Regions from separate parts of the Homo sapiens genome. Here region 1 is linked to region 2. The links come from fine-mapping of genetic effects on gene expression. Tissue or cell type: lung. Region 2 holds a variant in brackets; the other region holds the start of a gene. All regions are shown on one strand. Distances are between the middles of the regions.

Region 1 (5,226 bases), 34 kb before region 2:
GCATCCCCCAGGGTGGAAGGTACCAAACTGGCAGCTCTGGCTCAGCTCCTCATTCCACTGCTGGTCCACACCTTTTGGGGGTCCTCTTGCTTCCTAAAAGCAATTTACAGACGTTTCCCACACAGTCCTGCAAGGCACAGGCACAGTGCTAGTAACAGGCTCAACTCCTGCTCTGCAATGGAAATGCATGACCCCACCGCTCCTACCTTGTAGGATCCCACACAATTTGCATGGTGGCCTCTAAACCCACAGTCCTCAAAGTGGGGACCCAGGACCAGTAGCTTCAGCATCACCTGGGAACTTGTTGGAAATGCAAATTCTTGGGCCCCACCCCTTACCTATTGAATCAGCACTTTGGCAGTGGAGCCCAGCAGTCTTGCCTTCCAGGCAAGCAAGCCCTCCAGGTGAATCCACTCTCAACCTCACTTGTGTAGGAAATGGGTATCATCAATGTTTGGAAGCCAACCGTTGTTTTGGGGCTGAAAGGAAATAGTGCGTGTTCCTGGCAGGAAGATAAAGGCCAGTATGTAGCAGCTGCTGTTATCTCACCAGTAACGCATCATCATTCATGGCCATGGCTTTCTGAGCTTAAGCTGTTTGCCAAGAATGGAGCCACATACCCTCCTTCTTTCCCTCTTCCCCTCAGCTGAGCAGGGTCTCATGCTTCCAGATCCCCTGTGTTTCACTTCAGCTCCTTTAGCTAACCGAGTCTCGCTGCCCAAGGCCCATATTCCTTCTCTCATGAGCTGCTGGCTCTATCTGGTCCAGGAGGGTGAGTTCTTTCTTCCCTCTGGTCTTCAGGTTCCCCCTCCCAAGACCCAGCTTTTCTCTCTAGGTTTTCAGACCAACAGCACCCAGAGCCGATCCACTAACTCCTTCATCCTGGCCCCTCTCCCCACCCCAGGACCCCCAGCTGAATGCAATTCCTTATTACCTCCCACTCCTCCATCCTGATCAAAAGGTCATGTGACCAACCTTCTAGATTCTAGACACATCCGGGGGTGTGGGATAGAAGGCAGGTGTCCTTGAATCATGACCTAGCCTCAGCATCCCTCTAAATTAGTTGCATGTAACCCAATCTCCCCCACCTAGGCTTCACTGTGTTTCAATCTTTTTGAATAAAGCGGGCCATCTTTCTTTCTGTGTGTGACCTTGGAGTTACACATAAGCAGAATAGATGTGCATCTATTCTCCATCTAACAGGCTCAACAGACAATGCACTATTCCTCCTGTCAACAGACATTATTGACACTAGAGTCATAAAATGCATCTCCAAGATGGGGAAGTCAGTTCAAGAAAGAGTATCTGTATCACGAGTTTTCTCTTTACATTTCCAACTCCTTGGCTCTAGGGGTGTTGCCGCTACCCCTCATCTTCTAGGTTCAGGTGCTCAGCTCCTGTTTGTAGCCCCAGGACAAGACGTTACCTGGGAGATCTTTAGAAATGCAGAATCTCTCCCTATCCCACAACAGAATTGCACCTGCATAACCAGTGCCCCAGGTAGATCTGGCTGAGAAGCTATGATGAAGGGCAAGGTTTGCCAAATGTTCATGGGGACAAGTTCTCCAGCGACACTGGTTTAAAATAGGAATTCCGAAAAGGTCTGATTAATGAGTTTGGGGTGGAACCCAGGAAACTGGGCATTTATTTAAAACAATCTCTCCTGTGATTCTTAGAAAGTAAATTTATAATGGGGAGGGGTCAAAGATAAGCATCTGAAAACAATTTTCACGCAATGTGGAGCTTTGAGACAGCGTTAGTCTTCAGGTTCTTTTGTTGAATGGAATTTGTGGCATCTGGGAGTGGAGCAGAGACCACTTCCCAAACTCCTGTTCTTATTTTTTTAAATTCCAGCAATTCAGAAGGAATTAAAGTAAAAGACGTAAGTTCTCTGGTTGCTGATATCTGGTACCTGAGATCAAGGCAAGATCGCTTAAACCAGTAAAGTGAGGATTATGGGAGCAAACTCAGGAATAAAGAGGGTGAACCAGGCCTGGAAGGGGACACAGGTTTGGCGACCAGACGGGTCACCGCTTGGCCCGGCCTAATCCAACTGCGCACGTCGGTGGGCCACAGCATCGCAGCGCTGGATCCCCGGGTCGGCAGAGGCGGATGGAGTTCAGCCTCTTTTTCAAAACTGCCAAAGCCACCCGGTCTGCCAAACTCCCCCACCAGCCAGCTCTGGGGCAGCCCCCCGGAGCCCGCCCGCTCCGGTCCCCGGGACAAGGGCGCAATTGACCAGCGCGGGCCGCCTCTGGCCCACCCAGATGACGGCCAACTTTTTTTGTTTTTAAGCCATCAAATTCAATATTTACAGGAAAAACCCCATGCTTGGTTCTAAAACTACTGGCCACTCAAGAAACAGTTTACTTCTCACTTCTGCCCATAACAAGAAAAACATAGACTTGTGCCTTACTCTTAAAAAAATAATAATAATAAATATAGGTTTTTTAAAATTTATATATAATTTTTAAAACCCCGTTTGTTGCATGTGGTCCCTTTCCCTCCTGTTGTTGAGCAGAATAAAAGCCCATTTTGCCAGGGCCCGCAGTCCTGGCGGCCCCCGCAGCTGCGGCCCTGTAACTTTAAACCTGGCCTGAGATCATCGTTTTGGCGCCGGCCAAACAGAGCCCGAGGGCGGGCCTAGCGCGCCCGGACGGAGACCACCTTGCGGCCGACCCCGCTCCCCCGCCTCCTCGGGAGAGATAAATGCTGACTCCGCTCGGAAAGTTCTCAACTGCAAAGTTTGCTGTCCGGCTGCCTAGGGTCTGGGAAGCTCGGGCACCCTCCCTCTCCGGGGCTCCTGCTCCCACCCCTCCGGCCCCCCCACCGTCGCGCTCCTCCAGGCTGGGCCTGTGGCCGCGGTGCTTTTTAATTTTCCCCCAGCTCAGAATCTTGCTGCTCGGCCCCCAGGAGAGCAACAACTCAACGGGAACGATGTGGAAGGTGTCAGCTCTGCTCTTCGTTTTGGGAAGCGCGTCGCTCTGGGTCCTGGCAGAAGGAGGTAAGACCCAGCGCAAGTGGCTTCCTGCCGTCGCTGATGGGGACGAGCGAGCAGAGACTTGCTGGAATGCCCGGGCCTGGTATTCGAGGTTGTCCAGGGGAGCGCGGGGGAGCTGAGGGTGTGTGCGTGTCAGGCGGCTGAGCGCCGGAGGAGGAGAGGCAGCGGCTTAGTCGGTGCCAGGTCCCAAAGACGCAGCTGCGCGGGTGTGCCGGGAGGAGCCCCGGAATCCACAGGCTGCGAGGTGGGCAGCACAGGGGGCCTCCCTCCGAGTCGGCAGCACCAGAGAGATCGGGTGGAAGGTTCACAGTAGGCAGCCCCGCTTGCTGGCAGCAGTGGCTGGGGTTTCCTTCCCATAGAGCGGTGTGTTGGAGGAATACGCACGCCTCGGGAGAAGCTGGCCTCGTAGAATCAGGAGGGACGTTCAGGAGGGCTTGGGCCAAGGGGAGGGTTCCCCGCCCTGCGGTGGCCCTGGTCCCCCTTGGGACTACCTAGTCTGGCGCCCTGCCTGTTGGACACACTCAGCACCCCGTCACTGGACTGGAAGAGGCCTCCTTTATCCTCTTTAGAGAGGATAGTGTGTGTGGAAAGGATCCAAGTGGAGGCTTCCGAGGAGTGTGAGTGCATGAGGATTGTTACGCGTTACGAACATTGAGGTTTAAGTGGGTTTGAGCCACGTGTTCATCTTGGGCAACAACATCAGTGGCTGAATGTCTGTTGGTGACTCCTTAGGCTTTAAATATTTTGTATCCCATGTTGGGGTGGGGGCGTCCACAGCTTCCATTACCCTTTGTCCTCTCCTGGAGCCTTACCTCTTCCCGCTGGGTTGCTGTGTTGGTGGTCTCCATTGACATCTGTCAACATTTTGTTTTCTTTTCTTGGGTTTTTATTTTTATATTTCCTCAATAGAACATATGTTCTGCAGGACGCAGCTACATCCAGCCATGATTCCCCACGGCCAAAACAATGCCTGGCACATAGTAGTTGCTCACTAAATGTTGGTTGAAGGAATTGTAACCTAACTCGTGATCTTTGGGGCTGGAGGTTGCTGAGTTATGCTGTGAAAAGTAAACATTTTCCAAAAATTGAGGATCAAGGTAGGCCTAGGCCCTGAGGAATACTTCTTGGAGAGGGAGCGGTTTGCAGGAGGGGTGCGCCTAACCTGGCCTCCTACAATGGTCCACACAGACAAAAATACCCAATCTCAGGGAAATGACAGAGTTCTGCTCTATGCTGTGCTGTCTGCTTCAAAGGGACTGAGCAACTCTTTTTATAGGGGCCGTGGGTTATTCGTAGCAGTCCTATCTTTGGAACTTCTCTTTCCACTGGAATATATACAGTTCTGTATTTTCAGTTACATTTCCTTTTTGGCGAGACAATGTGCAAATGACACCGTTTTGTGCTCACCAGGGCAAAGCAAGGGAGCGCCCTCACTTCAGCATCTCAGCCCTGCTAAAGAAAAAGCTGCTGGGTAACATCCTTTGTTTTTGCCCAGGGAAGCTTTAGCTGTGATTCCCTTCAGCCGGCTCCTGAATGTCAAAGGTACTCCTAAAAGATGGCGTTAAAACCGAAAAACCATCGTTGGTGCTGGAAACTCCACTACTAAAGAAAGAAGTGGTATGCGGGGCTGGCTGAGTGAGGGTGGGTGCTGAGTTGCCTGGCTGCCAGAGGAGCAGAGGCCCAGCAGGGTTTTTGTCTGAGAATAATGAGCGAGGCGACTTGAATATGGATGAATAACATCATTGAGCGAAGCTATTGTGGGCTTTTGTTGGGGAGCTGGGCTGGGGGGTAATTATGGTGATGAATTTTATGATCCTTTTCATAAGATCCTACGCCCTACTGGGTTTCCCTCCTCCAGGGTTATAATCTGGTTCAGTTTTATAATCTGGTCCCATGTGTCATCCCTTTGGGTGTTAGTGGATTCAAAGGAGGTCTGTTGTCCACACATCTGGCATTTTTTTCCATTGTCAGGCGCCACCCTCATGCTGAACTTTCATCAGGAAGGCACGTTTTGGGGGCCACTTCATTAGAGAGTTTATTTTGTGAGATTCTGCAAGCTGCTGCTCGCTGCTAACCCACATGTGCTTTTCCGGGACCAATCCACCCAGGATTAATCATGCGGCCAACAAATTTCCCTGTGATTTCCCCGAAACGCTTGCCAGTTTGGAGGCCCTGAAATCCTCATGAGTTGTTAAGAGTTTTTGTTGCACTGAAGGCACTTAATA
Region 2 (5,226 bases):
CTCACTGCAACCTCTGACTCCCAGGTTCAAGCGATTCCCCTGCCTCCGCCTCTCAAGTAGCTGGGACTACAGGCATGCACCACCACACCTGGCTAATTTTTTGTATTTTTTAGTAGAGATAGGGTTTCACCATGTTGGCCAGGATGGTCTCAATCTCCTGACCTCGTGATCCACCCACCTCAGCCTCCCAAAATGCTGTGATTACAGGCATGAGCCACCGCACCCAGCCAAAAACCTTTTTCTTATATGAGTTGGAGGGATGATATATGATGGAAGGGAGGGGAGAGGACAAGTGATAAACACCTGGAGGGTTGAGGGATACAGGGGACAACACAGCTGTGGACTTAGCGTGTTTGGAAAAGCCAGGCAGTTTGACCCTGCTGTGTGAGGACGAAGGCATGGAGGAGGAATGTCAGGAACAAGAGATGATCACCAGGTGTCAGAACTTGGAAGATTTAGAGCAAAGGACAATAGGAAAAAGGACTCACGGAGTTACTATTCACAATGCCAGTAAGAGACACGACCGTCACCCTTCTCTATTTTCACAGGCCCTAAAGAGCTGAAGGGTTACGCCCTGCTGCCAACGTGCTTAAAAAAAGACCGTTTCTGACTCTGTGCCCTGTCCCTGAGCTCGTGGGAGAAGATGACCCGTGGAACACTTGCCTGGCCCACTCAGAATCCACGGTGACCTCTCCGCTTGCCAAAATAACCGAAGGAAAGACCGTTCACCAGACTTGGCTCCTCTAAACATTTGCTGTTCAAACATGTTTTTGAATATACATTCTATAAAAGATTATTTGAAAGACAAAATTCATAGAAAATGGAGCAAAACTGTATAAACTGATTTGTAACTAACACTGGACCATTGGATCGATATTATATGCTGTAACCATGTGTCTCCGTCTGACCATTCTTGTTATTGTTAAAATGCAGAGGAATCTGGAAATATTTATATCCACGGAGTCCTTGGATCCAGTGCTACGTCAGTAAATAGCACCAGCATTTTGCAATTGCTGATCTGCTGAAATGTACACATTCTGGTCTAGTTTGGTCTATCTTTTAAAGCCTGATCTGGTGTGAATAATCAACTAGGAAATCTAAACTTGGATAACACGTGGTGAACAACTGCCTTTAGCTGGTCCAGATTAATCATTTCAAAGACATCCATTTTAGATCACAAGCAGGAAGTCGATAGTCTCAAAGGCACTTTGTTTCTCCCAAGTAGGCCACCAGGCAGCCTCTAGAGTTGCTTTACCCAAATCCTTCTCCAGCCATGACTTGGTGACTCTAAGCTTGCTCCCACCTGCCCCCTCCACTTCCCTCAGATGATGAGGAGCCAGGGCTAAGGGGGCAGCCTTCTCTCTTCCCAGTGATGCACATCCTTCACATTGGCTGCTTTGTTCTGGAATATGGATATCTCAGCCTGGATGCCGAGGAAGCTGCTGGATGCTTAATGGTGCTAGAGGCTCAAGTGTGTTTGAAACCAAGAGCCAGTTGTCCCCCATGCAGAAAGAAATCCTGTGTGAGCCTCTGGTATGAGAAATAAAATCTGCCAGTTTTATAACATTCACTTTCTGCCTCTGAGGAAAGATACAGGGAACAAAAATCAATTTGTACAGTCTTAATATTAAAAGCAGCTTGACTAAATACCTGATTTAAAAATAGAAGACATCCCCAGTCCTCATGACATACCGCAAATATCTGTGGGGTCCTGTTGAAAAGAACAAAATAAAGGAGCCCAAGGGGTCATTCTGTCTCAGCACCATCCAGCCTGGCACTTCTCTTCCCATATATCCATTGGATTTTTTTTTTTTTTTCCTAAACAAAGTTTTTACACTGAGCAGATGCTCTGTCATGATGGCGGTTGTGCAATTCTGGTATCCTCTAAATTTGTAAGCATTCATAAAACAGGAAAAAGTAAACTATCATTCGGAAGCACAGCCCATTCCTCCCATTTTTTGCAATGATGTCTGGATGTTATTTTAAACAGTGTGTCTGTGTGTTCCCAAATCCAGCTGGCCCCACCAGCTCAGATTCCATTTTTTTTGTGTGTGTGTGTGAAACGTAGTCTGCAACTCTGCCTCCCGGCAATTATACATGTGTCAGGATGTCAAAAAGCAATTCTCCTGCCTCAGCCTCCTGAGTAGCTGGGACTACAGGTTCCTACCACCACACCCGGCCAATTTTTGTATTTTTAGTAGAGATGGGGTTTCACCGTATCGGCGAGGATGATCTCTATCTCTTGACCTCGTGATCTGCCCGCCTCGGCCTCCCAAAGTGCTGGGATTACAGGCGTGTGCCACTGCGCTCGGCCTCAGATTCCATATTTGAACACCAGCTGATTGAGAGAAGGGGAATGAGAAGAGCTGGATGAGTTTAAATAACTCATTGTTCAGATTCCTGAACAGGAGTTGGGATAATGGCCATCTTTTCTTTCCTATCCTTTCTTCCCCCCTCACTGTGAAAAATAACAGTCCACCCCAAGTCATACACTGGACCCAGTGCCTGCGGGGACAGGACTGTGGGTTTCTTGGTCACACCTGTGTTGGTGCTCAATGCAGTGTAGACATGTTTTCAAATAAAACAAATGATTGTGTACAACAATGAGTCAGACTTTTGTTGGAAAACACAAGTCTGGGCCACACTTGGGAACATCTCCAGATAAGATTACAACTTAGGTAAATGCCTGCCTGTTGCCTTGCTTGAGAGTGGATTA[T/C]AGATGGCCAGGGGAATGAATTCCACAGGAGGAAAACACACCTACACCTTTCAGCTAGGTCTGCCAAAGTAGAGAGGTCAAGTAGAAGCATGGGCATGGGAGACACGTGGCACCTGGGGGCTCTCTCCCTCTCTGGTCCCAAAGGGTTAATGAGGTTTTCCCTGATTTTTTCTGTTTTGTTTTGAGATGGAGTCTCGCTCTGTCGCCCAGGCTGGAGTGCAGTGGCGCGATCTCGGCTCACTGCAGCCTCCACTTCCTGGGCCCAAGCAATTCTGTCTCAGCCTCCCAAGTAGCTGGGACTATAGGCGTGCACCACCACACCCACCTAATTTTTGTATTTTTAGTAGAGACGGGGTTTCACCACATTGGCCAGGATGGTCTTGATCTCCTGACCTCGTGATCTCTCCCTGCCTCGGCCTCCGAAAGTGCTGGGATTACAGGTGTGAGCCACTGTGCCCAGCCACCTGATTAATTTCTCAGCACTGGAGGGTAAAACCAGGTGAGGGGGCAATTTCATCTTGCCCCTGCTAGTCCTCCCTAGAAACCTCACCTCAGGAGAGGTGAATCCCTGTTGCTGGGGGACGCCCCACGGTTCCTTGCTCACCCCGACTCTGTCTGGAGATTGCCCTGGCCAGCTCCTGGGTGGGTGCTGCAGATCTCCTCCTCCCGACCCCACCGCACCACTCCATGTGGATTTATCCTCCTGATGCGGGTCCCTTCCCTGCCAGCGTAAGGATCAGGTGCTAGGAGCGGGAGAGCAGTTAGCCCCATGACTTCCTCGAAATAAATATTCAATATTGTTAAATTAGGACTGTTGAATTTGTCCGTTGTCAGTAATCCTGGGTGCCCATTTGAGTTCCAAACAAGGAACCATATTGTATGCCTGTAGTTCCAGCTGTTTGGGAGGCTGAGGTGGGAGGATCGTTTAAGCCAGGAGTTCAAGGCCAGCCTGGGCAACAAAGTGAGAGCCCCATCTCTTAAAAAATGGACCAGGGTTCTAGTCCTGTTCTGCTCCTCCACACCTGTAACCCTTCAGGGAAGTCATTTAACTTCTTTGGGCTGCAGTTTCTTCTAAGAACTTTCATGAGATGTCAGAAAGCATCCCTTTTCTAGCAGGAAACTAACCACGTCTACCTAGTCCAACAGATTGAAAGAGAACGGACCCTCAACTATGTTACATGTAAATTTACATTCCATTACATGCCACCCCCAGGAGATGACTGGAAACTGGGGGAGCTGCCAGGGTTCTGAAAGTTTAGGGAAACAGCTCTATCAGAGACATCTGGGAGCAGGGGGTGCTGAGGTTAGCTCTTTGCATGATATAAAGGCCTTGTTTTTAACCCCTACTTTTTCCCCTCAACCTGGGAAAACCAGTTGAAAAACCAGGGCTTAGTTCTGCTTCATGGGCCACCTTCAAGGCTTGGCTTTCATGAATAGGAAAGAGCAAGGAACTGTTAATCCCTTTGCTGTCTCTATTTTTATTTTAATTCAGATTTATTTAGTATTCAGGGCATGGGGCAGTTTGTGACATGCTTCGATTGGGGAATGGTGCACGTTTTGATATTAAAACTTTTGCCAATTAAAAGTCCATTGGAAGTGGAAAAAGAATCCTCCCCAAAATATAGCTGCATGTTAACACATGCACTAAAAATAGAGTCATCCCCTTGTGTGCGCTGGAGGACTTGTTCCCTGAAACATTGCCTTTTTCTTTGCTCTTCCTGAAGCTTAAAATCGGGTTAGAACATATAATAGATCCTGGATTTTTCAACTCAGTAAATATAAATGATGTAAGTGTGGTTATTGGTCAACAATGCAGAATGAGTCTAAAATCACACTCACTGGTGTGAATGGGAGTTTTTTTGGCTCAGGGGCCCAGCATGCAGGTACGTACCTGGTACAGGCAAAGCCAGCCTGAAAGCACTAAACACTATTCCTCAGCACTGTTTCTTACTCTGAGATTATTTTATCAGATGCTGACTCAAAGCACAGCGTGTTCTATTTCTACATCCAAGGGCTCCGGGCCATAGTACAGACAGTCCTATGCGTGGTTCTGAGACCTTGCTCCTCCTCCCATTTTTTCTTTCCTACCTCCTTCTCTACTGCTGCCTCTGCCTTTCCACTGATGCAAATTTTTGAGAAAACAATCACGTGCTGGTCACATACCAGGGCGATCAGCAAATGTTTCTGAAGTGACGGCTTCCCTCTGGATGCTGCTGAAGTAGTCAAAGAGGTCGTCTGAAATATTTGTTTGAATAAATGAGCTTACGGTCCTCCGCATGTAACCTCAGGAAGGTGTGCAGGTGTCCTGACCGAAGCAGGAGGTGGACCCCTTCCTGTTGCTCCTGTTCCCACCCTTCCACAGAGCATCTGTAGGTGAGGCTGGATCTGTGGATGGCCCAGGGCTCACTGGAAAGGGAGTAGGATTCTTGTCCAGCAAGATCCAGAAACAAAAGACACTCCCTTGGGTATAACTGCTGAAGAACTCTCATGGGACAGGAGTAATCTGTTCC

What was found. PIP is the estimated chance that this variant, and not a neighbour inherited with it, causes the effect.
Region 1: PDPN starts here. The variant in region 2 is fine-mapped to the expression of PDPN in lung (TOPMed, PIP above 0.99).

Annotation. Positions count from the first base shown.
Region 1 is chr1:13,581,097-13,586,322 of GRCh38, forward strand. It overlaps PDPN (podoplanin), which reads left to right and starts at 2,736. Exons shown (of 6, transcript NM_006474.5): 1 at 2,736-3,004. The coding sequence starts at 2,938. RefSeq lists an enhancer at 2,639-3,177.
Region 2 is chr1:13,615,357-13,620,582 of GRCh38, forward strand. It overlaps PDPN (podoplanin), which reads left to right. Exons shown (of 6, transcript NM_006474.5): 6 at 549-2,601. The coding sequence ends at 555. Among named protein-coding and RNA genes, the nearest start is that of PDPN, 34 kb to the left of the region's middle. The variant T/C (reference allele first, on the strand shown) is at 2,717.